Linked DNA regions of Homo sapiens: region 2 is linked to region 1. A link means that fine-mapping ties the variant in region 1 to the expression of a gene that starts in the linked region. Tissue or cell type: atrial appendage. Region 1 holds a variant in brackets; the other region holds the start of a gene. All regions are shown on one strand. Distances are between the middles of the regions.

Region 1 (9,893 bases):
GCTTTCCTCAGGGCAGGGGCAGATCACCAGCTCAGGCCTCCATCCAGGGGTTTCCTGTCCCCAAAGTTGCACTAATGCAAATCCATTTTTCATTAGGAGAAAATAAAACTCACAAGTGACATCAACTGAAAAATGTTTTTTGAGAGCAAGTTATTTCCATTTAAAGCTAAGCACATGACAGCTGGTGACTTTTAATGGAAAGTAAAATTTGCTGGGCTGAATTACTATCAAACCACTTGAGAATTTGTTTCTAATTTTCCTTTTTGGAGGAAGGCAGTGCTCTGGAGTCCAGCAGAGCAGATGAGGAATGGAAAGGTCTGGTCTCATCTCTAATTGCGGCCTCAAAAGACCCTGGACAATCCTCAGTAAAATCATGTCCCAAGATTTAGTTACATTAATTTTCTTTACTCTGTACTTGAAACTCATTTAATAAGCTGGTTAGAAAACAAACTTTCTGTACCACCTTTTGTTTGGGCCCCCAAAACCAAAATGGTTGTATGTGTACTGAAAACTATCTACGGTTGGCCAGGCGCGGTGGCTCACGCCTGTAATCCCAGCACTTTGGGAGGCCGAGGCGGGTGGATCATGAGGTCAGGAGATCGAGACCATCCTGGCTAACAAGGTGAAACCCCGTCTCTACTAAAAATACAAAAAATTAGCCAGGCGCGGTGGCGGGCGCCTGTAGTCCCAGCTACTCGGGAGGCTGAGGCAGGAGAATGGCGTGAACCCGGGAAGCAGAGCTTGCAGTGAGCCGAGATTGCGCCACTGCAGTCCGCAGTCCGGCCTGGGCGACAGAGCGAGACTCCGTCTCAAAAAAAAAAAAAAAAAAAAAAAAAGAAAACTATCTACAGTTTCTCCACTTAATAGAAAATATCTGGTATAGCAGAACCTGGTGGGCATTTGCTATGGACTGAATGTGCCCCTGCCATTCATATACTGAAGCCCTAACCCCCAGTGTGATGGTATTTATTAGGAGGTGGTGCCTCTGGCAGATTTAAATGAGAGCATGAAGGTGGGACCTCCATTACTGGATTAGTGTCCTTATAAGAAGAGGAAGAGACCAGAGCTCACTCTCCCCACCACGTGAGGATACAGTGAGAAGGTGGCTGTCTGCAAGCCAAGAGCCCTCACCCAAACAGAATCTGCTGGTATCTTGATGTTGGATTTTCTAGCCTCCAGGACTGTGAGAAATAAATGTGTGTTGTTTAAACCACCCAGTCTATGGTATTTTGTTATAGTAGCTAGGGCTGACTACAACTGAAGTAGGCTAGAAGGAACTCTGTTATCATGAGCTCCAGGGATGAGCTGTCTATACACTTGTGCTGCATCAGACATGAAAGAGGAGTGGTGTGAGACTTGCTTTTCTGTGCATCCTGTTTCAGAGCAATATAAATTCAGTTCCTCTTATCTTCCAGAATCTTCTAGCACTTCTGGAATCTATAACATATGTCTGTATGGATAATAGCACCTCTGGAATTTGGGGACAAGGTCAAAGGGTGTCGGGATTTGAAGGGGAAGCCATAAGAATCTTCACAATATAAATTGAGATTAAACACTTGCAGATGCAACCCATCCTTGGGGTGGTTTTGCAAACATATTGCTGAGGATTTCATGGTTTGCTACATCAAGATTAGATACCCAAAGTTTATTGGAAGATTAAATTACAAAAAGTAATGACAAGGTAAGTTGTAATAAGTCATGTTATTTGATGAGAAGTAAAGATAATTAAAGGCATGAAAGAGTCTGTAAGGAGCCTAGAAGAAGAGAGGTGAAGAGTAAGAATCTAGCTAGTGTTTCCCCAGGGGTGTCAGGGAATGGCAAAAATGTTCCAGACTGTACCAACGATCTGAGCCACACACTCCTGAAGACTTCTTTTACCCTGATTCCTGTTTAACAAGTAGTTTTCTAAATGCTAATTCAGTTTTTCTGGTACACAGCAGAAAGGGGTCCCCTGCATAGTAATTAGAAAGGTGTGTCTCTGATGGTACATTACTTCAACTGGCATGCTGGTTTTCCCGTCAGTCTACTATGGGAGTTTGGTTGGCAAGAGTCCATTCCTTGAGGCCTGGTCAACGTTGTGTGGGCTGATTACAACATGGGGTTTCTGAAACTTAAAAGTTAAGGGCCCGATCTGGACCCAGGCCTCTACCAAGCCACAGATGACCTTTGAGGCTCCGCTTGATCAGGCAGCCAGCCATGGAACATCATCATGTGGCAACTCCACACCCACAGCTATCATGGCTCCCACTTGCGGACACATTACTTTGTATGTATTTTGTCTTTCTTAAACAACTCCTTGCTCCCATTTCTTCTCCCTCAAATTGTGAGATTTTCTGCTGCAGGGCCTTGTCTCTCCTCTTTCATACATTAAATGTGTAAGATCTTGACCACAGGGACACTCAATATATTGAATGACTTTGTTGGCAAAGATATTTGAAAAGATGATAGGTGCAAATATAATTTATTTATCTTCTTTGGAATCCAGCTGTAAAATACATAGTTAAAATAGAAGCTAAAATGTTCTGTTGTTTGATCTTCAGCTTCTGTCTAAATTGAATTGACTCTCCATCCCATCCTACTTCCTTAGAGACAGACAAGAAACTCCTGTCACCATGCTTTTCTGTACTCTGTCCTACGACTTTGCTTCCATTTAATTTGTCCTCTACTTGTCATTAAGATGTTATTTGGGGCTGATTAGAGTTTGCACCTGTTTCAGTTTATTCCCAATTATATAGTTATAGGTAATCATTATAGCCAGCCACCATTATGGAACTACAAACCTCTCAATCATCCTATTACAGAAAATTTGCTGAATTGGAAAGTCATGGTAACAGGCCAGGCATGGTGGCACACACCTGTAGTCCCTGCACTCGAGTGGCTGAGGCAAGAGGATTACTTGAGCCTAGGAGTTCATGTCTGTAGTAAGCTACAATTGTGCCTGTGAATAGCCATGGCACTCCAGGTGGTGCAACACAGTGAGGCCTCGTCTCCTAAAAAACACATTGAAAAAGGAAACTCATAGGAACAGCAGCAGTAGGCTTACCATGTGGCCTCAGCAGCCCTGGGAGGAGGAGAGTATGCAGGAAATAAGGAGCTTCAGCGAGGGGCACCAAGAGGCAGAATGTTGGTTGCAGTGATGACTAGATGTGTGAGTTTGGGTAAGGCCCTTCAATCAAGACTATTTCCTTACTTACAACAGTGCAGATAACAATCCCTATCTCATAGGACTGGTGTGAGGGTTACATAACATGACACGTGTCAAAGCCACAGCACATTGTCGTTAAATGTCAGTTCCTCCTCTCTTTCTATGTCCAAGACATACAGGGATGGGATGAGGGAGCTCTTGTGTGAAGGCCCTTCCAGTATTCCCAGGACTTGACCTCTATGGAAGGGGTCCAAAAGCATCCTAAATTCCTATCCAGGGGCTCTGCTATAGCTTGGCTCCAAGACATCATGGCATAAACACAAAAAGGAAGAAAAGTCTGTCTGTACAACTTATAGAATAAGAAACTATGAAGTCATGCTTCACTGTCAGAATGAAACAACTTCTGGCTCTTTTGTTAGGAAGTTGCTTATGTCCAACTTACCTGACAAGGAGCCCCAGAGAGAGACCACAGTTCAAACTTGCTTGATTTCACCTTCAGCTGTCTGCTAGTGTCTAACATTTCATAGAGAGAGACGAGAATAGCCACTCTCAATAATGGGTCCCAGCTGACCAAGGGTGCAGAATATTTATGCTGGCGGTTCCCATCTGCTGAGCGGTTACAAGCGCCAGGCCCTGTGCTTTGCATCTTCCACGCATGACCTTATTCAACCTCACAATAAACTTAGGAAGGAGGAGCTTTCTCATGCTGTTTTTGCAGATGAGGAAATACACTTGGGAGGGTAAGTGTGGTGGACAGGAAGAGTTGAGTGATGTGGGCAATTGAACATGGAGGGATAGGGGGCCAGAGTCCCACTCTTCTCCAAGAAGGGTGCCGGGTCATCAGGGAGGGCCAATGCATCCACTGGCAGATCAGTTAATCAGCATTACTAGTCCCAGAGCCTAGCAGAGGGCAGGGCTCCTGGGCACAGGAGACAGAGGAGCCTTCATCCTTCAAAATGCCTCTCAATTGTTTCCTACCTGTGCTCCCACTTTGGGACAGACCCTTGCTCTCTCTCTCCTGGAGAACAGCTGTTTCCTGCCTGGTCTCCCAGCTTCCATTCTCCAATTCCTCCTTCTGGCACTTAAAATCCTGAGCAATTTGGCTCCAACCTACTTTTCCAACTTTATGTGTTGCCACTTCTCAGTGTGAGCTCTTCCCAGCCTCAACTGTATATTTCCAGCTCTTGCTTGCAATTCTTCTCCCCTGGTCCTAAATCCTACCCACCCATGGACTCTCCTCTTCCACGTGGCCTTCCCTGGCCTCTCAGGGCCACAGTGTTTCTCCTGAATACGAAGAACTTTCTTAGTCTAGCATGGGCATCCAGCACATTTATGCAATTCAGGATTGCTTGTGTTAACCACTCTGTTTTGTGTCTGTAGTGAGGCTGTAAAACTCCAGGGACCACATGCAGCACAGTGCAAGGCCTACTGGGAGGCTCTGTCCCGGGAACAGACATTGGAAAAAAAAAAAGGTTATATTTACATGTTGACAGCACATGGATTTCTTCAGCTGAAAACTGTCATTAGCAAGGAAAATTAAAGTAGGAAGCTTGTTCTTTCTTTGAGTTTCATAATAAATCACAAAGTCATTTGCGGAGCTTTTGTGCTGCAGGTTCTGGGCACCAAAACTGCAAGTTACAGCTCTGAAAGCCAGTGTCCACCAGGGCCGAGAATCAGACCAGAGTTTGAATCCTGGCTCCACCTCCTTACTGGGTGACTGTAGGCAAGTTCTTCAACCTCTCCAAATTTTCTGGTTGTAATTCAAGAAGAAGTATCTCTACTATACAGGGTTGTTAAGAAAGAATAAATTAGATAACAATGTATAAAATAAGCTTAGAACCACAACATCAGAACCAATGACTATATGATGAATCAAACTGACTTACTTTCACAAAATGCGTTGGGAACTTAGAATGGTATCGGTAGGAAAGTAGTGAGGACCTGAGGTGGGGTGAACAGGAAAACAGCTGCTCAGTTGCCTTTGCTTAGGATGAGTTTGTGCTCCGGGCGCAGGGATTAGGTGATGAGGAGGTAGTTGCCACTGGACAGGGAAATGTGTTGCTTCTTCCCAGCGACCTCAGGGGACACTCTCCTCACTGACTGTGAGATCCCCTTGGTCAGGGACTGCCTCCCCTTCCCCAGAACCTAGCACAGAGCAGGAGTTCAGCACATACTGGTTTTCATTGAACATTCCCAAGTACTTACTTTCCAAGAATAAAAGAAGCAGTTCTTTCTAGACTTACTTGCTAAGCAAAAAATGGATAATTAAGATGTTGCAAGAAAGTCGCTGGCAAAAGTCCAAGGAGCTGCTTTTCTTAAACCCTGCACGGAGGTGCAGGGGGTGACATATTTTGACAGCTATGACATAGCTCAGGGCAGATGGAAGAACAACAAGTACAAAAGAGAACTTGATTTTGGCTTTGGCCAAAGAGAACTTTTGACTTTGTTTGGCAACTGTTTACTGGATACCATAGTAGCATGCCTTG[C/GCGC]CCTAGTGTGGTGTGAGAGCTGCCCCTCAGCCAGTGATGGAGAATGAAAATACTTGAGAGTAAAAGCCTAATTATTTAAAAATACATCAAAACAAAAGCAAAGAGGGAAACAATCTGGCTTCAACGTTTATGAGAGTCCAGAGTCTCTGAAGAAGCTGGTCCTGTTAAGGAATGGAAGACAGGGCCCCAAGGGAGCTGAGGGCGTGGCTGCTTCCCCAGGGCCTGCTGTGGGGGCCAAACTGACCCTGAGAGGCAGTGTGTCAGCTTCACAGCTGACTTGAGAACCAGCGGGGCCCTGGGTCTGGTTTACCACAATAAAGGAACAAAATGTTCCCTTTCTAGCAGAGCCGCTGCTGGTGGGGTTCGGGACAGAGGCGGGTCAGGGCCCTCCGAGATGTAAGGACACTGCTTTGCTTTGCCAGTGAACTCTGGTTTGGTTTGGGGGTATTTCATCTTTAAGGACTGTGAAGGTCCCATTTGTTCCCTGCTTTAATAAAAAATAACACAAGAAATAGGTGTTTCTCTCCCTTATTTTGAGACCACTAATCAATACCATCTGATCATAGTTTTAAAAATTAATAAATTGGGCTACACAAGCAGAAATCTATTTTTTAAGCTATATTATTTCTTACCAGCACATGTAAAATTCTTAAAGGTGGCTGATGTTTTTCCCCCTTTCTTCTTCCTCTTTTTCCCTCCTTCTTTCCTCCCTCCCTCTCCTCTCTTTTTTCTCCTTTCTCTCCTTTTTTCTTCTTCCCTATCTTTCTCCCATTTTTCTTTTTTCTTTCTTAAAAGTCCAGAAGTAAGGCTCTTGTAGGGTTAGTTCAGTAGCACAAGAAAATCATTATGGGGCTAGGTTCTTTCCATCTTTCCCTTCTGTTCTCTGAGGACCAGCTTTGCTCAAGGGCCAGCCTTTATCTTGGTCATAAGATGGGATGCCCAGTTCTAGGCATCACATGACAACACCTGAGTTGGTAAAGAAACATCAGTCAAAAGACTATAGGGGCCGGGTGCGGTGGCCCATGCCTGTCATCCCAGCACTTCGGGAGGCTGAGGCGGGTGGATCATCTGAGCTCAGGAGTTCGAGACCAGCCTGACCAACATGGTGAAACCTCGTCTCTACTAAAAATACAAAAATTAGCCAGGTGTGGTGCTGCATGCCTGTAATCTCAGCTACTCAGGATGCTGAGGCAGAAGAATCACTTGAACCCGGGAGGTGGAGGTTGCAGTGAGCTGCGATCGTGCCATTGCACTCCAGCCTGGTCAACAAGAGTGAAAAAAAAAAAAAAAAAGAAGGCTATAGTGAGTGGTGGGGACTGTAGTGAACTGGAGAGGAAATGGCCCTATTTAACACATTCAAATACAAAACCATTTTTTCTTTTTGTAGTTTCAAAATATTTTGTTATTGTTAGGGAGGGGGAAAGGGAATTATGGATGTTTTCAAATAATCCTTTTGCGAGTAACTACACTGTTGCAAGCAGTCAAAACACTGTTAATGTTCCAATTTTGCAGAAGTCAGCATGGAACTTCAGGGGAGGTTAGGTGATCTGCCCCAGATGGAACTGTTACAGGAAAGGGGTCCTGATCCAGACCCCAAGAGAGGGCCCTTGGATCTTGTGCAATAAAGAATGCAGGGCCAGTCCACAGAGTAAAGTGAAAGCAAGTTTACTAAGAAAGTAGAGGAATAAAGAATGGCTACTCCATAGACAGAGCAGCCCCGAGGGCTGCTGGTTGCCCATTTTTATGGTTATTTCTTGATGATATGCTAAACAAGGGGTGGATTATTCGTTATTCATGCCTCCCCTTTTTAGACCATATAGAGTAACTTCCTAACATTGCCATGGCATTTGTAAGCTCCCATGGCGCTGGTGGGAGTGTAGCAGTGCGGATGACCAAAGGTCACTCTCATGGCCATCTTGCTTTTGGTGGGTCTTGGCTGGCTTCTTTACTACAACCTGTTTTACAAGCAAGGTCTTTATGGCCTGTATCTTGTGCCGACTCCCTATCTCATCCTGTGATTTAGAATGCCTTAACCATCTGGGAATGCAGATGACCAGTAGGTCTCATTTTACCCAGCCCCTACTCAAGATGGAGTTGCTCTGGTTCAAACACCTCTGACAGAATGGGAGTAAAGGCATTGTCAGCCCCAGGCTCTCTCTGCTGCTTCATGGCTGCTCAGAAAACTTGCTGCTGCCCAGGTGTGAGCTCTACCTCCTTTGCAAGATCCTGAGCTTCCTAAGGGTTGGGTGGTGTCTTCTTTTGTGCCCTCCCATCCCCCAACTCATATAATCATGATATCGAAGGGACCCCATTCACATTCACGCAGAGCTCAGGATGGATCCTCTGATGCTTCCCTTTCTAATCCAATTTTTAATTTATGTGTTTTAATAAGTCCTCCAGGGATTCTGTTGCCCTCTAAAGTTTGAGGACCACTGTTCAAAAGTCTCTGTAATGCTTATAGACCAACAATCTAAATATTGGTTCTCAACCTGAGCTAGATATTCAGGTCACCTGGGGGAGCTTTCAAAAATTGTTAATGCCTGGATCCTAGCCTGGCCTCCCACCCACAGATTCTGATAGAATTGGTCTGGTGTGCAGCCTGAGAACTGGGACTTTTAAAAACTCGCTAGGTGATTCTAAATTGCAGCCAAACTTAAGAACCACTGATCTAAATAAAATATGAAGGGAGACAACTGCACTGTAAACAAATGAAAGATTAAGTGGAAATCCAAAAGTGAGATGCACACTGACAAAAAATGAAAAAAAAAAGGCTAACATGAAAGATTAAACTCTAACAATAGAAGTATAAGGGAAGAGAGATTATTTGGTTTAGGCACTACTGGAGGTATTTCTCTTCCATATTTAAAGGAGCCTGGAAAGCTCATGACTGCCTTCAGGAACAGGTGTATGTACTGATGGTTTCTAAATTGCTGTGGATTAGTGTTACTGGAAAAATCCTCTTTACTGCTTCAAAATGCACAGCTCAGTATGTTATGAAACACTCTCATCATTTGATATGTTCTCCTAACTGTCCTTTTCCCTTTTCTGTGAGTTCAGAGAGAGGGAGTGGGTAAAATAAGCTTGTGCTGTAACAGGGAACCTCATGTCACTTTCAAACAATAGTAAGATGTGCCCCTGGGAAAGTCCCATGACTGCAGAAGCCCTCCTGCTACCAGGCAGCTCAAATAACAAAGGGCACTCGGAGACTACTTTAACCAATATGAACACAGAATAAAAGGCTCCTTTTAGAGAAGGAAAAACAGAGAGACAGAAATGAGTTTTCCTTTAAGAGGGGAATCAGTTTTAAGTAAAAGCAAGGAAGCACATAGAATTTGTTACTCAAGTGCAGTACAGTATTTTGATTTGGAATGAGACAGAACTTCATTAACTGTACCCTAGCAAGTTAGTCTAGAATCAGAGGTCTCAATTCAAATTGCACCAGGCCATATTTGGATATTTTCTTAGGCTAATTCAAAGATCCAGGGAGATACAATCACCCTCAAAAGTGTAGTCATTTCTCTTTTAAAATGGAAATACTAACCCCATGCTTTTGTGGTTAAAATTTGTTAAAACATGATTTAGGTTACATAAAGTCATAAAACATGGCTACTAGAAGGCTTAACGGCTGGCAGGGGGTTCATTGATTGCACCTATTGTTAATTGTTCACGAATCTCCAGGTTTTTCTTCTAACTCAATTAAAAAATTTCCACTTTTCACATTAAAATCTCAGAATAGTTTCTGGCAATAAAAATGACGACTTGCTTGTCTGTCTTTCTCCCACAACAGCTTAACACAGATGCCAATGGTTTCTGAAAAGCTTGGGTCTGACAATCAGGCAATAATAAAGCAAATTCAGCAACTGTTACTTCTAGTTTAACTTGGGCTGTGGGCAAATCAGGTGCACATTTTAGTGTGCAGCAGACTCTGGCCTCAGATTCTGATTTGGCTGGTGGGGTGGCATTCAGAAGTCTGCATTTTATACAAGGGCCTCCAGCAATCTAACCCATGTGGCTGAAATACTCCTCTTAATAATCAACAATAGGCTGGGCGCAGTGGCTCATGTGTGTAATCCTGGCACTTTGGAAGGCCAAGGCGGGAGGATCACTTGAGGCCAAGATCAGTCTGGACAACATGGCAACTCCCTGTCTCTATAAAAACAAAACAAAACAAGGCCATTGTGGTGGCTCATGCCTGTACTCCAACACTTTGGGAGGTCAAGGTGGGCGGATCGCTTGAGGCCAGGAGTTTGAGACCAGTCTGG
Region 2 (9,893 bases), 62 kb after region 1:
CCTGTTAGTGACAGCTGGATCTCAGACGTTTCACTTATAGCCCAATTTAAAAAAAAATTACTTATATTCTATTAAAAAATCATACATTATGTGTGCTTACTATTCACTTAATGACTTTTATGACTTCAAAATCTCATTACTTATTTTTTTTACATTTATATCTTATCTATTCAAGACTGCAAACTCATTTAAGGCAGTTGCTCTATCTTGCACTCCAAGAGAAAGAAAATCTTGTGCAATGTTTTGACAATAGGTGCTTAACATAAAAGGTTGGCATGGCAATCTTTTTACTCATCCTAGTATCATTCATTTTCCACTCAGTAAATCTTTACAGTATTCTTTAAGTCACCTATCATACTTTTTTTTCTTTAGATAACCTCAACTTTATTTCCCTATGACTCCAAATGAATCTTGAGGTTCCAAATGAAGCTGAGGTTCTTCCCACTTTCCCCAATCTTGGAGGAAGAATCATCTCTCTCTTCTTCCGAAATCTCAACTGTAATTTTGAATGCAATCGTTGCTGCCTCCTTCCAGACAACCACTGTTGCCTCTACTATCATTCACCCCTACTGGCTCCTTCCCCAGAGCCAGTATACATATTTTTTTTTAAACCATTTTTTTTTTCAAGAAAGAGTCTTGCTCTGTCACAGGCTGGAATGCAGTGGTGCGATCTCGGCTCACTGCCACCTCTGCCTTCTGGGTTCAAGTGATTCTTGTGCCTCAGCCACCCGAATAGCTGAGATGACAGGCATGCGCAACCACGCCTGGGTAGTTCTTGCATTTTTAGTAGAGATGGGGTTTCACCATGTTGGCCAGGCTGGTCTCGAACTCCTGGTCTCAAGTGATCCACCCGCCTCAGCCTCCCAAAGTGCTAGGATTACAGGCATGAGCCACTGCACCTGGCCCAATATACATGTTTAAATCTCCCCTACTTATAAAACAAAATCTAAGCAACTCTTCCTTCAAATCTGATCCCACGCCTCAAGATAACATCCTTGTCCTCCCTTCAACAAACACCTTGGAAGAGAAACATACAATAGTACACTTCTTTTATTCTTCGTTCTATTTTTAATGTAATATTTGATACACATGTGTCAGGAAAATTGTGAAAAACTTTGAGATGGGAAAAAAGATTACTGGGTATCCTGTCTCCAGTGCACCCATTTGGTCCTTCTGAGCTATTTTACAACTCTGCACAGCTGTTGAAAACTGGTAATACAAATTATTGTCCATAAACATGCCAAAGAATTATGTCCAGTGGGATCTAATCAGTGATGACCAATTTTGCAACTATTTGTAAATTTACTTCAGCGTTCCTGATTGCATATATGTGTGTTACTTTGAATTCTCCCTTGACACATTTTTGATTCCCTTATAAATTTAATAATTTAAATGAAAATTCTGACACATATTCATTTCATATTTGTGTGAGAATCGTGATTTCACAAAAATTATTGCCGGGAACGGTGGCTCATGCCTGTAATCTCAGCACTTCGGGAGGCTGAGGCGGGCAGACTGCTTAGGAGTTTGAGACCAGTCTGGGCAACATGGTGAGACTCCTGCCCTAAGAAAAAATTATCAACACATGTGACACTTGTTGTTATCAAACAACATAATAAACATTTGTGAAAGACCAGTCAACTTATGACTACAACATCCCTAAGGAGAGCTAAAAGATTCCTCAAGGAAATGGCACGGGGATGTTGGCATATGTACATCAATAACAGCAATAGAAGATATAAAAAAGTAGCACAGAAAAGTTTAAACAGGAGTTTCATAAGAATTCTGTGCAAAAAAATGTCATTCCTTGCTGATGGGATCAGAGAAAGCTTCAAGGAAGAAGTGGGATTTGAGCGGGGTACTAATGTGCCAGTTCTTGCCATTCTTCCATCTTATTAAACTCAGATGACAACTCGCCTGTAGTCACTCGCTATACTGTGCTGTCCAATATAACCACTTGCCACATGTGACTACTGTTTCGTGGGTCTATTCTGAATTGAGGTGTATTTGAATATAAAATAGACAAGATTTTGAAGAGTTAACATGAAAAATTAATGTAAAATATCTATTAACTTTTTTATTGGTTACATGTTAATATTTTAATATGTTGGGGTAAACTACTTTAAAAAAGAACTACGACATCATCAATACTGTTGCATCTATCTGTATGTTCCTTCTCTACTTCATCTCCTTGCTTCCTGTCCAGAAGTAACCATTACCTTGAACTTTAAGATCATTCCCTTATTTTTTCCCCGACATTTGTCTGTATTCCTACTTTTGCCTATTTTTGAGCTTTAAAAATCATATTTTATTGTATGTGTGGATTAAATAATAGTATTTGTAATGTTAGAAAAGTGTCTAGTATGGGAGGCTGAGGCAGGAGAATGGCGAGAACCCAGGAGGCGGAGCTTGTAGTGAGCCGAGATCGTACCACTGCACTCCCGCTTGGGTGACAGAGCAAGACTCCGTCTCAAAAAAAAAGTGTCTAGTACATACCAAGTGATTTATAAGCATTTATTAAATAAAATTTAAAAATATGGTCTTCTGTGGTTGCTTCGTCTATTTTGTTTCTAAGACTTGTCCACGCTGTTAAATGCTGCTGTAATTCCTTATAATGAGAACAAGCTAATGTGTGACAATTGTAACTCATCCATTTTATTTGATAGACTTTTGAGTTACTCCCATCCCACCCCCAACCATGTTGCTATAGACATTCTTATACACATCTCCCAGTACACATGTACAAAATTTCTTCAGGATATACAAACATGCCTAGGAGCAAAACTGCCAAGTGCTAAAGTATATTAATATTCAACTTTACAAGATGGTGTCACATTATTTTTCAAAGCTGTATCAATTCATACTCCCACTCACGGTATATAAGCTTCTGTTGATCCACATTTGTGCTAACAATTGGTATTATCCATCTCAATTTTGCCAATCTTCTGAGTATAAAATGGTATCTCTCTGTGTCTTAATTTTTATTTCCTTGATTAGTAATAAGGTTAAACGTATATATTTCTATGTAATAAATGTTTCTGTTCATTTTTTCTTTTGGGTTGTCTTTTTCTTATGGATTTCTAATTTCTTAATGTATTGTGGACACTAATTTGTCAGTTAAATTTTATCTAGTCACCCTTCAACACACTAAATAATCTGAAATCTGTATGTATCACTTATTTTGGCAATGGCATTAATAACTTTCTCATTCTAAGTCTTAAAACATCTCTCTTGGTCTCCCCTCCCTATGTAATGTCTCTGCAGTATTGTAACCATTCTCGTCTAGTTCTCAGGTTTTCCCTACCTTGAACTTTCGTATCTTCCCCCTAAGCCCCCACCATTCTTCTTTTTCCTCATGTTTCTTGTAAGCTGGTTTCCTGGAAATTGGTATCATGGTCTGTCATTAACCTTCCTTTACATTCTACATGTACTTTCTCTAGTATCTTAGTTCCATAGCTTTAGCTACTACCTAATTGCTGGTGACTTTCAAATCTCTCCATATAACTGAGCTCCTGACTTTCATTTTCAATTTAACATATCTAACCATAATCTGTCCCTAAATACCTGTCATTCCAATTTCCTACCCTGGCTAGTGATATTACTAAGTGCTCAAGTTAGAAAGCTCCAAACTGCTGAAAGTTTAAAAGCTCAGAAAGAATTTATTATCTCTTATTTTTCCCAGATTTAAGCCATTAGTGACTACAACATAATTACTGAATGCTCAAGAAACGATACATAATACAAATCAGAGGCCAGAAGCTGGCAGCACATCTGTCCCAATGTTTTTTAAAATCAGGAAGTATTACAGGAAAAATCTAAATGGCTCTTTTTTCCTGAATAATGGGAAGATCTGGCAACACTGTCTCATAATCCTTCATGGCCACAAGCACAGCTGAGAAGGTGCAGGCAGATCCCTTTAAATTAACCAAAAGGATGCCAACTTGCCATAAACTTCATTTCCCTCCAGTATCTTACTACTGATTTACTTCACTGATTTATATTACCTGCTCCATTCTTCTTGTGAGCATTTGCCTTTCTAGGCCCTTGTGTTTGCAACCTCTGGTATACCTATATATGGCATAGGAATTCAAATAAATGATTCTGTGAAAGAGGTAGAAAATAAGCTCAGACTTTAAATAAAGGATGTGGATCAACAGTGTGGCCTAACAGAAAGAGAAACACAGCACAAGCTACAGCAATAAGGAAGGGAAAGCACAGGTATGTAGAGAAAGCCCAAAAGTTTTATCTAGAAGCAGCTTACAGCAACTAGGTAATCAATGACAGAGAGTGTGGCATAATGCTTTGGCATTAGATTCAAATCCCAGTTCCACTACTTAGTACTTAAGTGCTAAGCTAAGTTACTTAAGCCTAAGTTTGTGTTTCTTCAGCTACTGAGTTATTTAACATTTCTTCAATTAATGAAATACAATAGTATAGTTGTACTCAACACTTATTCATTTCTTCCACCACCTTATTTCATAGCAGAAGAACCTTGCCAGAGGCAGGTAAAGTGATTTGTCTAAGTTCACATAGCTGGCATAGAGTCAGAGCTTCCTTGTTTTTTACTCAGTTCAGGGTTATGTTTGTTTTTAAACCACACCACATCAATTAATAACAAGAATGACCTTTTACAGAGAGGAGAGGTCATTTTGTAGAATAGGAGGATATGACATTATGTAACACCAGAATGTAATATTTAAAAGTCTTAAGCATCTGAAAGAATTTCACTTATGTTTGGTAATTATATATAAAGGCTGTTTTATCTTAAGACACATTACACAGTAAGACATAACATACTACAACAACATCAAGTTTCTTGTAAGTTTAAAACCTTCATTAGCAACTTAGTAAAATGTTTACAAATTCTTCTAGGCTATAAAGAGTATTTATTACATTATTTAGGTGGCTGCCTCCTGACAAAGTCTAGCTCTTGTTCTTTGTTAACAAAAACCAAACTCATCAGCCTGCAACTACTTCTAAGTGAAGTGGAGCACTATTTTTTTTTTCGGTATTCAACTTAAAAGATCTCTGGCCAGCAGACTAAAATGTTTGTTTTATAATTGCCCGCTGAACTATGATAGTTTGTTTCCAGATGGTGCCCTTCCTTCAACCTGCACACAATCTCTCCTTGTTCAAAACTATTCAACCTCCTGCTGATCCCACCCCCCTATTTAAGGCTACAAAGAGGAAATCCTAAGGAGATTCCCGCCCCCAGTCTCCAGCAATTTTTGGTGATGTAATATGTGGGCTGAACTTGAGTCTACTGAGAAAGAGGGAATCACTATTCAGGGGTACTGTATATACAATCTGGGTCAGCTGCAGCTGGTTACTGCATTTCTCCATGTGGCAGACAGAGCAAAGCCACAACGCTTTCTCTGCTGGATTAAAGACGGCCCACAGACCAGAACTTCCACTATACTACTTAAAATTACATAGGTGGCTTGTCAAATTCAATTGATTAGTATTGTAAAAGGAAAAAGAAGTTCCTTCTTACAGCTTGGATTCAACGGTCCAAAACAAAAATGCAGCTGCCATTAAAGTCACAGATGAACAAACTTCTACACTGATTTTTAAAATCAAGAATAAGGGCAGCAAGTTTCTGGATTCACTGAATCAACAGACACAAAAAGGTATTTAATATTTCTTTTATTTAAAAATATTATGTATAGCAAATGCATAACTATTTTATATTTGTAGTAGAAATTTCAGAATCTTTTACTAAACAAAGACCTTTGGAATATACTACAGTTTATCTCATCTGAAAAAGGTTTTATCTTGCAACTTGACATAAAAACATTAAGTACTGTGCAATGGTTAATGCATTATTTGAGGTTCAATTTAATGATGTTTAGTGTATATGATTACAGACTGATACATGCATGCCATGCTGGGTTTCTGAAAACAAGTGCTTTAGTGACAGTAGAAAGAAATTTTAACAAGTAACAGATTAAATGTATAAGGCTTACAGCACAATGATTAAAAACAAAGGAATACAAACTAAATAGTCGTGAACACAATTAGTTTCTCTTCCTGCAGCCACAGTGTGTGTGCTGAAGATATACATAAACTGTTGGATTTCTCAGTGTAGTCATAAAACAAAGCTAAGATACAAAAATAGTTGAAAGTCTTTGCAACAAAATCTCAATTACAGTATAACCAAATATTAAGCAGAAATTCTTGTACAGATTTAAGATTAATCTATGGCATTTCTTGTTCCAACTCAAAATTTTAAATAGCTTTCCAGGCTTACATGTAATAGTAATTTAATTTGGATGACAGAAATTAAACTTGCTACAAATGGAATCACTTGGAAAAGCTAAGTTATTGATATACACACAAAAGCATTATGTAAGTGGTATTAACAATAGAAAATAAGAACCCAGAAGATGTAATTAAATTCATGACTAAAAGGCCAAAAATATGTAATATTTTAGGTAGAAATAATTTTGTTAAGCACACATAAGAGGTTTCCTTCAATATTCTATCTGGGAGCTTTTTTTACATGCATTATAAAAACTATTAAAGATAAAATTACTCGTTACCAATAGTATGCCTTAAACCAAAGACACTTAAGTTTGTTAGATTTGGGGCTCCTTTAGCCTTGTAAAAATTAAAGATATTAATGGTTAAGAATCTTGAACAAGCAAATAATGGTAAAGCTAAAATTTTTTCCAACTTTGCTTTTGTGTCCTTTCCTTAAAGATTTAAAACTGTAAATGCTGGCAGGATTTCTGTTAAACACATATTTTACAAGAAATTCTAACAAAATTTCCAAGCAACAGTGGATCTGAAATACTGTCATCTCTCTTTTTTGTTGTTGCATGCTATGGGAAGTGCAGGACTTCATTAAGCCTCAGTTCTTACTGACGCTGTCTTAAGGCAGGCATTTAATCTGAACCCCAAATTACACAGATAACTATTTATCCTTTTCTTAAATATATCCAGGGGATTAGATTGTTCTCAAGTCTCTTCCCAGAACATATTTCACAATCTAGAAATTCTTTATCTAACATATCCTGAATGCTTCATAAATTTAACTTCATTGCCTCATGCTGTTTTCAGTGCATGACACAGCCAGTTAAATGCCTCTGTGAGTTTACCATCTGAAAGGAGGCAAATCCTGACTTTCGTTTCTTCTCTCTACTAGCTGGCAATATAGCAACTATGAAGAGAAAAGCTACTAATAAAATTAACCCAACGCATAGAAGACTTTTTTTTCTCTTCTAAAAACAACTAAGTAAAGACTTAAATTTAAACGTAAGTATTCTATAACTAATTTATAACATTCTCTTGGGGCCTAGGAAAATTTTAACATATACAGAAAGTTTTATGAGGTAACATAGATTTATGGATCTTTTGCTTCAAAACTGAACATATGTGAGAAAATATTAAATAAGAGAATGTTTTCAGAAAACATAACAGTAAATGTATTTTTAAAACCAGTTCTTTACTCCTGACGTAGCTAGTCTACTACTTAAGAAATGTGGCTCCTTGCCCTGCTTTAAGTGACAGTGAAGCCAATACTTTTGTATTTATTAAAAAAAAATTATATTTATTTAAAAACTAAACTTTTAGTTGCCTCCTTTAAATGCTAATTTAGACCACTTTCTCTTATGGTAAACAGTGATTTATCTTATGATTTAATCTTATAGGAACCACAATGAGCCAAGGCAGAATACACACAAGGAAGCTGTTTTTGTTTTAATTTAGATTAGCATTTTGGTGTTTTTTGTTCTTCAATGACAACACTGATGCAAAGTCCTAACAGCAGTCTTGGATGATGCGCTTTTAGCTGTTTTATAAAAATCTGTGTCTGGTATTAATACAAGCTGTTCAATCAGAATATTGCTCATAAAATTCTATTTGTTTTAGAGTTTTATATTACTTCCTGCATTTTCCTTGTTTTGGTAGTTTATTTCATAGTAAATATTATTTAAGTAAAATAATTTTATGATCTCAGAGTTTCCATTCTAGTATTAAAATGAATGGACTTTAGCAGTGGTAAGTTAAATTAAATATATAGGAAAAATGATATGCATGTGCCCAGGAGGATGATGGCTTTTATTTCTTGTCCCTAGTTTTTAAAATAACCCATATCTAAATTCCACGAATCTGGAGATATAATAAATGTTTTATTGGTTTTTGGTATAGGTAACTCCTACATAGTAAAAGTCTATTTTTAAAAATAAAATAGATGACTGTTTCTAAATTTTCTATATATGTCAGAAAGCAAGGTATGAAAACATAAAAAGCTAAAAAAAATACCCATGTGTGCTTTGGCTATCAGTCAGCAAAAGAAGGCCTCGATAGAAATACAGATTGTTATGTCCTCCCTATCTTTTGTTTTCATTCCCTCTCTTGTTAGTAAAATAATAATAATTCTCCATACTCCATCTATATTTGCCTTATTTTCATTATCTACCCATTTTGAAGACACTATTCAATTGAAAAATACCAAAAAAGGAACATGGTTTTAGAAAGTGAAAGTAGCAGTAGTCTTCATGACGACAGCATAAGAGTTATATTTCATTGACATGACCTTTGTTTTCGGGAGGGGTCCATAATCATAGGTTAGATATATAACTATCAGCTGACAGAATACATACAGAAGGAAAGAAATTGCCGCAGAAGAGTCTGAGATGTAAAAAAATGATCTGGCAGAACGTGGACACAAATTCTACCAAAAATTATCCATAAATACTTTTGCATAATTAAGTAACCGGTCAATGAAAAGGGACATAAACCAGGAAAAGGCAGCGAAAAACAAGAAACATAAACTTAAGACTCCTCTGTGGTTATGACATGACTAGGGTAAAAATCATAGGTCTAGAAAAGTTAGGAGTAGAAGGTTTGAATCCCATTTGAGTGATTTAGCTTCTCAAGGATTTTCCTCCTTTATAAAATGATACAGCATTACTTCAGTGTTATAAATGCAAATAGTTAACATGTGTTAAGCTACATAAATACAGGGGATTGAAAACATGAACTCTGAAGTCTTCAGCCTGGATTCAAATTCTCGCTCCATCACTATGAACCTGTGTGACTCTTGATAATAAGGTACTTAACTTTTGGATGCCAAGTTTTCCATCTGAAAGTGGGGATCATAATAATCTACTTCATAGGGTTGTGGTGATAAGTAAAACATGAAAATGGCTTAAAACAGTGCCTAACACTGAACAAGCACTCAATAAATATTAATTACTGTTATTGTGTTGTTATTAACAACAGGCATAAACAACTTAGGAGCTGGTTTCTTAAATCAAGAAACAGGTACTTATGTGGAAATTTGGACAGAAAAGCTCTGTCTTAGGGTATCCACTGCCATCCTTCAAAAATGGCAGATAGGTATGAAGTTCGCAAGAGTGAAAAGGTGGCCTGTAATAGACCAGCTCGTTAGTAGATCTGACAGAGTGAACATACCTTACCCATTCTACTTCTGCTACTCTTGTGGGAGGTAACTAGAGAGAAAGGAAAAAGTCTTGGCTCTTGAAACTGTTTCCTCAGAAGAATTTGTACTATAAAGAAGTATTTCTCATCTGCTACAGCAAAAACGAAACATTCTAAGCACATATTTTAGTATAGGTGCTGCTTCTATAAATACTGACTATGGGTCAGAGAATCCGATCTAGACCTGGTTCTAATCCTTGTGTGGCCTTAGCCTTCAACATGCACAGAGTACAAAGAGGTTCTTGAATGACAGGGTCTCTAAGGCATTTCCAACTCTGACATTCATATTCAATTACAGACAAGTTTCTTTCCTTGGTAATGGTTGTAGAAAATTACTAACATTTTACTAAAATACAGTTCAGTAGGACTTCTGTTAGAAGAACAAACCTGCTGAATTATCTATAAGCTCAGAGTACATATAATTACAGTTCAGGAAATATAATTAC

Alleles and levels. Positions count from the first base shown, and alleles are read on the strand shown. Sizes are in standard deviations (SD) of each study's normalised expression.
With allele C in place of GCGC in region 1, the expression in atrial appendage of the gene that starts at base 5,294 in region 2 is lower (small effect, 0.30 SD a copy in GTEx).

The links.
Region 2: ANGPTL1 starts here. The variant in region 1 is fine-mapped to the expression of ANGPTL1 in atrial appendage (GTEx, PIP 0.96).

What each region holds. Positions count from the first base shown.
Region 1 is chr1:178,928,059-178,937,951 of GRCh38, reverse strand. LOC102724754 (a long non-coding RNA gene) reads left to right here. Exons shown (of 3, transcript XR_426873.4): 3 at 974-1,053. Among named protein-coding and RNA genes, the nearest start is that of ANGPTL1, 62 kb to the right of the region's middle. The variant C/GCGC (reference allele first, on the strand shown) is at 5,632.
Region 2 is chr1:178,866,478-178,876,370 of GRCh38, reverse strand. It overlaps ANGPTL1 (angiopoietin like 1), which reads left to right and starts at 5,294. Exons shown (of 6, transcript NM_004673.4): 1 at 5,294-5,630; 2 at 7,148-7,257. The region is part of intron 8 of RALGPS2 (Ral GEF with PH domain and SH3 binding motif 2); the gene reads right to left.